Linked DNA regions of Homo sapiens: region 1 is linked to region 2. The links come from fine-mapping of genetic effects on gene expression. A gene starts in region 2. The other region holds a variant in brackets. All regions are shown on one strand. Distances are between the middles of the regions. Region 1 overlaps GLS (glutaminase). Region 2 holds the start of STAT1 (signal transducer and activator of transcription 1).

The links. PIP is the estimated chance that this variant, and not a neighbour inherited with it, causes the effect. A credible set is the group of variants that fine-mapping cannot tell apart.
Region 1: its variant is the best candidate, but not a certain one, in a credible set for the expression of STAT1 in whole blood (INTERVAL, PIP 0.88).

The regions. Positions count from the first base shown.
Region 1 is chr2:190,926,435-190,931,818 of GRCh38, reverse strand. It overlaps GLS (glutaminase), which reads right to left. Exons shown (of 18, transcript NM_014905.5): 12 at 4,337-4,513; 13 at 1,251-1,382; 14 at 182-274. Among named protein-coding and RNA genes, the nearest start is that of GLS, 48 kb to the right of the region's middle. The variant A/G (reference allele first, on the strand shown) is at 2,656.
Region 2 is chr2:191,011,636-191,017,019 of GRCh38, reverse strand. It overlaps STAT1 (signal transducer and activator of transcription 1), which reads left to right and starts at 2,849. Exons shown (of 25, transcript NM_007315.4): 1 at 2,849-3,002; 2 at 3,342-3,495. RefSeq lists enhancers at 1,429-1,478, 2,257-2,336, 2,367-2,566, 3,177-3,496, 4,608-4,667 and 2 more and silencers at 2,617-2,856, 2,887-3,086.

The sequences.
Region 1 (5,384 bases), 85 kb after region 2:
AATCTTTAAGTATTTAATACTGGTGATCCCGGATTTATATGTCAACAATTTGTTTACACTCATTTATGATTAGCAAAGACCCGAGGCCACTAACAAACTAAGATTTTATTTATACAGGCAAATCTCACTTTTTCTCTTCTTAAAAATTTTATATACTTATCTAAATAAGAATTTTGCTTACCCTTTGATCACCACCTTCTCTTCGAGGATCAAGTTTTTTTGCAAAGTGTCTCAAATTATCATAGTTATGGAAATTACACAGAGAAACAAGATCCTGTAAACAGTTATACAGAGCAGGTATAAGAAATTGGCTATTCATTGGTTATATATATCCATATTTTAACAAACTCTGCTTATATCGTCCAGCCTAGAAATCATCACTACATGCTAATAAAGTAGTATAATGCATCAAGAAGAGAACTAAAATCAGAGTAAGATATGGATATAAGTTTTAAGAACACTGCTTACTAACATGATCCTAGGGCTCAGCCAATCAAATCATCTTTCATCTTCTACAAAATAGGGTTTATAACCGGCCCCATGAAAGAATTCTTCTATCAAATAAGTGTAAAGCCACATTAAAATATAAATAAGTACTCTGGTTACAATCTACTATATTTTATATGCACTCCAAGGTCATACTCTAGTTTTTGTAAAATATAAAAGACTGGAAAATAAAACAATTTTAATTGAGTATGGTACTTAATATGAACTCAAGCAAGTAATCAATGTAACTAAAACTAGAAGCTCAAACATTAGCAGGAACTGGGTAACAACAAAATACAGAACTATCAAGAGCAGTAACAGTTTAAAAATGGTTTAATCTTTTTTTAATTTTCAGTGCTTATTTCCTCAAAAAAATGTTTAAAGGTAGTCAATGGATAAAGATATTTAACCATGCAGATTAAAGATATAATAAACCAAAATAATTCTTAAGATATACTGGCTTTTAAATTACTTCTCCAAGTTTAATACCTTTTGTTGAGCTTTTGAAAATTCATACTAATTATAACCATGAAAATTAAAATATTAGCATCTAACAAATATAATCTGTGGGAATAATTAAATGGGAGCTGTCTGACAGAGACAACTTGAAGCTCCTCTGGGAGTATTTCCACGGCTCCCTAGTAACTGGCACACTATAGGCGGAGGGCCAAGAGTTAATGAACTATGGAAAATGGGTTAAAAAAAAGAATCATTGGATGGCTCAACTTGTAACACCATTATTTACATTAAGAAAATATGCTTACGTGACAAAAGTGAATTCCCTTAACACTGTTGCCCATCTTATCCAGAGGAGGAGACCAGCACATCATACCCATAACATTGGGGACAACTAAAAGAATGCCCCCAGCAACTCCAGATTTTGCAGGAAGACCAACCTAAAAATAATTCAGTAAAAGAGTATTCAGGTAAACATTTTAAAATAAGAAATGTTATGTTCAACAATAGGGAAACTGGGGCTGGGCACCATGGCTCACTCCTGTAATCTCAGCACTTTGGGAGGCCAAGGCAAGCAGATCACTTGAGCCCAGGAGTTGGAGGCTAGGCTGGGTAACACAGGGAGATCTCGTCTCTACAAAAAACAGTGAGACATGGAAGTGCACACCAGTAGTCACAGCTACTCTGGAGGATGATGTGGGAGGATTACATGACCTCAGGAGGTCAAGGCTACAGTGAGCCATGATCGCACCACTGCACTCCAGCCTGGATGACAGAGCAAGATCCAGTTTCAAAAAAAAAAAAAACACAATTGGGAAATTGGTTTAAAAATTAAAAATTATCTCCTGACCTTGTGATCCGCCCGCCTCAGCCTCCCAAAGTGCACGCCTGTAGTCCCAACTACTCGGGAGGCTGAGGCAGGAGAAAGGTGAACCCGGGAGGCAGAGATTGCAATGAGCTGAGATCATGCCACTGCACTCCAGCCTGGGCAACAGAGTGAGACTCCCTCTCGAAAAAAAAAATATATATATATACATACCATAGAATTTCAACATTAAAAATATTGTAGATAAATTTTTATCAACATGTTTATAAATAAAGTTATAAGGCCGGGTGCGGTGGCTCATGCCTGTAATCCCAGCACTCTGGGAGGCCGAGGTGGGCAGATCACCTGAGGTCAGGAGTTCAAGACCACCCTGGGCAACATGGCAAAACTCCGTCTCCACAAAAAATACAAAACTTAGCCGCGTGTGGTGGCAGGCACCTGTAATCCCAGCTACTCGGGAGGCTGCGGCAGGAGAATCGCTTGAACCTGGGAGGCAGAGGTTGCAGTGAGCCAAGATCGCACCACTGCACTCCAGCCTGGGTGACGAAGCAAGACTCCATCTCAAAAAAAAAAAAATTATGAAACAGTTTGGGATAGATATGAATATAGAAAAATTGTTTAAAGATACATTCTAAGGAATTATAGCAGTTACATCTAAATTGTGAGGCTATGGATGCTTTTATTCTTCCTGACTATATTTTCTAATTGTTCTAAGATAAACGTATTGTTTTTAAATATAACAAATTATTTTTTAAAAATATTTTACAACTAGAAAACAATAAAAAGTTATATATTCTTAAAAGATTTTCTAAAATGGTAATTTAAATTACTCCTCCTCAAAAAATTTAAGTTACATTAGCAAAACTTGACAAATGATAAAAAAAAAA[A/G]TTAATGTCATTAGAGCAGTGTTCATTAATTGCTTACTAACATTCAGTCAGTCAGTACCTCTGGATAGGAGAATTGCTAGAACCCAGGCGATGGAGGTTGCAGTGAGCCGAGATCACGCCACTGCACTCCAGCCTGGGCGACACAGTGAGACTCTGTCTCAAAATAAATAAATAAATAAACAAACAAAAATAAAAGAAGTATACCAATAAAGTACTTTTACACAAAACTAAACAAAACAAGCAGACCAAAAAAAAAAAAAAAAAAAAAAAACACACCTGAATTGGATCTACAAATTTATAGGAAATACAAGGGACAATGGAACAGAGGTAATCAGCAATGTAGAGACAGTGGAAAACTGTATAGACTAAATTACCCAGTTTTTCCAACCAAAAATAACAAGAAAAAAAGAGAGACAGGTCAAAAGAAGACCAATAGATTTAAAAAAAAAAAAAAAGGAGACAAAACCCAATCATAATGTATGCACCTCATCTGTATCCTAAGTCAAACAAACTATAAAATAATATAATAGGCCAGGTGCAATGGCTCACACCTGTAATCCCAGCAATTTGGGAGGCTGAGGCAGGTGCATTATTTGAGGTCAGGAGTTCGAGAACAGCCTGGCCAACATGGCAAAACCCCATCTCTACTAAAAATACAAAAATTAGCCAGGTGCAGTGGCAGGCGCCTGTAATCCCAGCTACTCGGGAGGCTGAGGCAGGAGAATCGCTGGAACTCAGGAGGCAGAGGTTGCAGTGAGCCAAGATCGTGCCACTGCACTCCAGTCTGGGCAACAAAGTGAAACTCCGTCTCAAAAAAAAAAAAAAAGAAATAATAATTTACAAGATAATCCAGGAAATCTAAACACTAACTAAATATTTTGATATTCAATTTAATATTGATATTAATAATGATATTAAAGTTTTGATATGTAATATTTAATTTTTATATGTAAAAACTGTATTATTGTTATGTTTTGTTAAGGATCCTTATTTAGAATTACATACTGAAATATGACAAGGATAGGGGAAACAGATGCACATACAGATGAAACAAGATTAGTAATGTATTCATAATTAATGAAGCTGAGTGATGGATAACATTAAATGTATCTCTCTCTCTCTCTCGTTTTACATGTTTGAAAATTTCCAAAATAAAAAAAGCTTTTAGAAGGGCATTATGACTTGACATGAGCAGAATGAAATAAAAAAAGTCTATATACTTTACAAGTGGCAAATGCACAACAGAGCTTAAAGCAGTACATTTTTGTTAAGTTTTAACTTTAATACACTTTTAGTCCTTAAAACAGCTATGGCCGTAACCAAAGATGTGAAACGTCACATCTTTGCAATCTTTCTGAACTTAGAGAATTCTTAAGATACATAATCATAATGCTAAACATTAAAAACAAAAAGTAAAGAAAGACTGTACTAACCTTGTACACTGGATTGCCTTAAAAGCAGAAGGGATGAGGTTCTATAAATCAAACTTCCAAGTTCTTAAGAACATCTGGTAGACCTTATCTCTATTCCTTACTAATCTTGTAACAAATTAACCTTGAAAACAAGCCTCTCTCTCAAAAATTAATATACAGCTTTAGAAGCAAAGTTCAAACTGCATTTTTAAAAGAACCAGTTCAGACTAGTTTCTTGCCAGAGAAAATAAGATTAAACAATTACTTACATGGAAAGCAAACTGCCCTGAGAAGTCATACATGCCACAGGAATGCATCAAACTCAATGTATTTCGAACTGCTTCAGGGCTCAGTACTCTTTCACCAGTAATTGGGCAGAAACCACCATTAGCCAGTGTCGCAGCCATCACACTGGCTGATTCACAAGTCACTTCAATGGAGCACAGCTAACACAAAGAAAAAGCAGAATTCTCATACTACTTTTAATATTACTGTTCACTTTTAAGATAATCTATTTTATTTGGTATTTCATACAGATCTGAAATATTTCTTCCAAAGAGATTACTTTAATATAAACTTGAGGACATTCTGAAGATTTTAGTTGACCGAAGTCCTACCCACTTTTAAGATTTACCCTGATTTGGCCAAAGATACTCAGTCTTTTAATGGCAGAACTAGACTAGGAAGTGCCAGCCTCTAAACACTAAGATTTGTTATTATCCCATGTGATATTCAAATTTGCTTAAATATTAATACTTTCTGTGGAATACACAAGCATAATTACTTTTAACTCAACAGAAAAAAAAAGAGCCATGAAATATTTTTAAGATAAAGCACCATACATGAAGATTATGATAGTGTCTACATGAGAAATCACCATTTTAGAAAAAAATGCTACAGTGCCTGACATTTCACCCATAACAAAGTTCGGCATCCCCATCTATATGGTAACAGGCAAAGGAAAAAGGGGAAGAAAAATATAAAGCAGATCTGTCTCAGATGCTCTGTAAGCCTAAACCAAAATGTTATCCTTTAGACCATTTATTAATATTTATTTGATATTTACTATGGGTGCTAAGAATACCCTCTAGGATAAAATTTTTGCATTTAAATACAATCAAAATAATGAAAATAGTTCACCGTACCAAACCCAAATTTACCCATAAAATGAAAATAAATTTTTCCACATTTTATTTTTAGCTAATAGTAAGCAAAATTGGGATGAGACGGGGTCAAAAAATAAAGTGGATAGGAGAAGAATGAGTTCAACTTATAAATTTTCCTCAGCCATACTCCAAGATCTACAAGAGGCACAAA
Region 2 (5,384 bases):
TTAGAGAGTGTATAGTTATTGTCCAAATAAATAGAGACACATATATTATTTGGTCATTCAGAGACCCCAGATTAATTGCTACAGGTTGAGGTGGTTCTAGAAAGAGAATATAGTATTTGGGCTGGGCTTTAACAGGTGAATAAGAATTTGGTAAGTGAAGAGAGTGAGGAGCAAGACTTGCCATTCAGTATGTACAAAGGGGCAGAAATCAGGAAATTAAAAGCATGGGGGGAGTGCTGGAGCTAGACGAGGTTAGTTGGGAAATGCGACAATGATAGAAAAGGCTGGAAAGAAGGAAAGAAACATTTTGTGGAGGATCCAGACTAGCAGACAACATTTGTGTTTATCATATGTGCAAGGAGAGTTGTTAAGGCTTTTGAGCAGGGAATGACTATATCAATGCAGTATTTTAAGGAATTGAATTTGGCAAATATAGTGAAGGAGAAAGAGACAAGAAAAAGGTAGTATACCTAGAGATTAGCATAGCATTCCAATTCTCAAGTGATGAAGGCTTATGGTAGGTATTGCTGTGGATGCTAAAATAAAGGGGGGTAGGGAAGGAAGCATCCACAGATCTTGATGATCCAAATTGGGATTTGGAGTGCCAAATAATCCTATTTGCAGATGTTAGGATTATTCCATTCCTTCATCAATATTGAAGCTAATATCTGTGCAAGTTTTATAGTACCAGAAAAAAAATTTTTAACATGTAATCTACCCTTCCTAGAGTCAACTTTTGATATAGTTTGGCTGTGTCCCCACCCAAATCTCATCTTGAATGATAACTCCCACAATTCCCACCTGTCATGGGAGGAAACTGGTGGGAGGTGATTAAATTATGGGGGCGAGACTTTCCTGCGCTGTTTTTGTGATAGTGAATGAGTCTCGAGGATCCGATCATTTTAAAAATGGGAGTTTCCCTGCACAAGCTCTTTGCCTGCCGCCATCAATGAAAGATGTGACTTGTTCCTCCTTGCCTCCCGCCATGATTGTGAGGCCTCCCCAGCCATGTGGAACTGTAAGTCCATTAAACCTCTTTATTTTGTAAATTGCCCAGTCTCAGGTCTTTATTAGCAGCGTTAAAAATGGATTAATACAGCTTTTTTCAGAGAACAGTAAAACATTGTCTTGGTTCTTGGGTGAGTAAGAGCAGAAGGGACACTTTTGGTGCCGTGGCATCTCTTGGCAGAGAAGTCTAATTTCACTGCTAACTTGCTTTGTGAGGGTGCATTTGTGACAAGAAGAACAAATAGATGTGCAAAGAAAAAAAACTCATACACACACATATAGGCATATCCATGGGAAATTATTCAGATCCTTCTCCTACCCCAAAGTGCCTAATTATTCAAGGCTTGACTCAAATCCCGTCTACTTGAAGGAACTAATTGATTTTATGAGCATATAGTCCAAAAAGATTTAGTTTGTCTGGCTTCAGCAATGCCTACCTGGAGAAGTGACATTTAAGCTGAGATTTTTAAACTAAGATCTAAAAGATGAGTTAGCCAGCGAAGAGTTGGGTGAAGCAGATGTTGGCTCAAGGGGTTTTCCAAACTCAGGGTGAGAAGTCCCTGAGTTTGGAGAGTGTGGTTTATTTGAAGAACTAAATGCTGAAGTAAGCAAAGCAGAGTGGCACATTATGGGGTTGGACAAAGAGATCGGGCAACCAGGGCTTTATAGTATGTATTAAGAAACTGAATTTTATAAGAGCAAAGAAAAGCCATGGAAGGATTTTCAGGTTGGCAAATGACATGATCTGCTTTTCAATTAAAAAAAAAAACACTCAAACTCTTGTATGGAGAATGGATTAAAAGGTAGATAAGGGCTGAAGTGAGGCAGCCATTCGGGAATCTACTGCAGAAGGAGGCAGCAGAAGAGATGGAGCAGAGTAAATGAGACTTGGGAAATATTTAGGAGGAAGAATCAATTAAGATTTGAGGATCAGGTGTTGCGAGGTGAGGGAGAAGGCAATGTCAACTATGAATCCTAGGTATCTGTCATGTGCCATTTCTAGAAAAAGAGCAGGTTTGAGGAGAAAGATGTTTGGTTCTGAACATAGTTTGTAGAGCTCACTGCACATACAAGTGGAGAGGCAAGTGGGAGTTGTAGGTGTGAAGCCCAGAGGAGAGGTGTGGACGGGATAAGCATTTAAGACTCCTCCATCTAGAAGGAAACTGAAGCTGTGGGTGAGGTCATCACAGCACAGCGTTTAGGAGAAGCCCAGGTAAAGAAGCTGACGAATGTCTGGACCCTGACAACCTTAACATATAATGGTTTGATAGTGGAGGTGGAGGCAATGTAGAAAGAATGCCAGAGGCAGGAAAAAGCAAGAAGGATGTGTTATCATCATGACCAAGGAAGAAACGTGTTTCAAGAACAAAGGCGTCAACTCTGCCCCATGCTTCCGAGCTGTCAAGTAAAGTGAGAAAAACAGAAAAGCGTTCCCTGGGTTTAGCAACACGGAGGTCAGTTGCTAAAGGGAGCTTCTAGAATGACGACGTCGCCAAATCTGTCCTCTGCCTGGATTCTCGGCGATGAAACTACTACAGAGACCTCCAAGTTTGGGCTTCTGCAAACACAGCACGTCCTTCTGATCGTTCTCTAAGATATGTAAACAGAACGCCAGTTCCCAGCGTGGCAACACGGGACTGGGCTGCAGCTCACCCAGCCGGCGGCCCCCGCCGGAAGCCGGCGGAAATACCCCAGCGCGTGGGCGGAGCAGCGGCCCGCAGAGGGAGGCGGTGGCGCCCACGGAACAGCCGCGTCTAATTGGCTGAGCGCGGAGCCGCCCGGTGATTGGTGGGGGCGGAAGGGGGCCGGGCGCCAGCGCTGCCTTTTCTCCTGCCGGGTAGTTTCGCTTTCCTGCGCAGAGTCTGCGGAGGGGCTCGGCTGCACCGGGGGGATCGCGCCTGGCAGACCCCAGACCGAGCAGAGGCGACCCAGCGCGCTCGGGAGAGGCTGCACCGCCGCGCCCCCGCCTAGCCCTTCCGGATCCTGCGCGCAGAGTGAGTGGCCGTGAGGTTCCGGGTGCCGGGGGTGGGACGCGCAGGGACAGAGTCCTCGGGCCGTGCAGTTGGACGCCGGGCGAGGACGGGCCGTCTGTGCTGACCCGCGAATAGTGATCCCAGAGGAAGAACGCGTCCTGAGTATTCCAAGTGCGAGCAGTGCCACCTGTTCTCGGAGATGGCACTGCTCAGCACGATTGTCCTTGCCAGTCGTGCTCTGGCAGTGAAGAGGACTTGTGAAATATAATTTTCCTCTAGAAGGCACTGCACCTTCCCATTTACCGTCACTTTCTCCCGTTTCCACCCCTTTCCATCAGTCACGTTTTCTTCTTTTCGCAGAAAGTTTCATTTGCTGTATGCCATCCTCGAGAGCTGTCTAGGTTAACGTTCGCACTCTGTGTATATAACCTCGACAGTCTTGGCACCTAACGTGCTGTGCGTAGCTGCTCCTTTGGTTGAATCCCCAGGCCCTTGTTGGGGCACAAGGTGGCAGGTCAGTAAATGTTCATGGAATCAGATGAATGAGTACATGACTTCGGAATCTTAATTATGTTTCTATGTTCAAAGATGGAAGGGCTTAATGTCTTCCTAGAGTTTAAAAGTGATGTTTAGTTTTTGCAGACCCCCCACCCCAAAATAATATAGTCTTAAAAAAATTTCTGGCCGGTACTGAAGAGTTCTGTGGTAGGTATGCAGAGGTGTGGTTGATTGTGCTTTGAATGTTGTTTGTATAGATAAGGAGTTATTTTCATAGAACAGAAACAGGACTTGAGCCTCCAGCACAGTCCATTGTGCAACCATTGCTTAATGAGGATGCTGGACTCACACTTGTGAGATCATAATATGGTTTGCTTTTTACTTTCTAATTCCGTCTGAAATATACATAATTTCAATTCAACAAACTGTTTCGAGCACATAGTATATGCAGGGCACTGTCCAAGGTCCATAAGATGTTAAAAAGCAAAATACCCCACTACTCTACCCCCTCCCCACCCACCTTCCCCCGCCGGGGACTCTGGAGGCATCACAGAGCTTTACAAGGAAAACTGGAACCGATGCTCTAATAGAGGTACAGAATTCAGTGAGACGCAAGTCAAAGAAAGCTTAATTGTGAGTAAGTCTCAGACAACTTTATGAAAGAAGGGGCTTTTGTACATAGCTTTGAATGCTATAGGATTTAGAGACGCAAAAATTTGTGGAGAGGCTGTTTCCAAGGGCGAGTAGCTGGAGCAAAGCAGAAATGTTGGGCACAGTTGAAAAACAGTAAATGATTTGGTGACTGGGTTGCTTTGTTGATGGATGAAGATGGGGTGGGGTGGAAATCTGCCTAGGAATGGACAGATCATAGGATTTTTGCACAGGAGATTGATGTGGTCCAATCTGTGGGCAGCAGAGGCTGGACTGGGAAGGTAGAATGTTGGAGACAGGAAGGAGCAGGTCTTGGGATGGAGTGGAAGGAATCAACCCTAAATCTGAGATTTGAGCTCAGTGACTGGGAGATGGCCATGCCACTCCCTGAGTTGGTAACAGGTTTTGTGAGTAGATGAGACTGACTCCAGATTTGTGAACATGAGCTTATTTATTCATTGTTTTTTTTTTTTAGAGACAGAGTCTCTCTCTGTCTCCCAGGCTGGAGTACAGTGGCGCGATCTCAGCTCACTGCAACCTCCGCCTCCTGGGTTCAAGCAATTCCCCTGCCTCAGCCTCACGAGTAGTTGGGACTACAGGTGCACACCACCATGCCCTGCTAATTTTTTTTTGTATTTTAGTAGAGACAAGGTTTCACCATGTTGCCCAGGCTGGTCTTGAACTCCGGAGCTCAGGCAATCCGCCCACCTTGGCCTCCGAAAGTGCTGGGATTACAGGCGTGAGCCACCTGGCCAGCCCAAACATGAGCTTATTAATTCACCTCTTCTGTGCCAGGTGCTACATATGTACTAGCTCAACCAGCCTTAAGAACCAACTGTGGCAGGGTGCGGAAGCTCACGCCTGTAATCCCAGCACTTTGGGAGGCTGAGGTGGAAGGATTGCCTGAGGTCAGGTGTTTGAGACCAGCCTCAGAAACATAACGAGAGGCTGTCTCTACAGAAAATTTAAAAATTAGCCAGGCTTCTTGGCTCGTGTTTATTGTATTAGTCTGTTCTCATGCTGCTATAAAGAACTGCCCGAGACTAGGTAATTTATAAAGTGAAGAGGTTTAATTGACTCACAGTTCTGCATGGCAGAAGGCATCTCTTCACGGGGCAGCAGGAGAGAGAATAGATGCAAGCAGGGGAAATGCCAGTGGCTTATAAAACCATCAGATGTCATGAGGCTCACTCATTATCACGAGAACAGCATGGGGGAGACTGCCCCCATGATTCAGTTACCTCCACTGGTCCC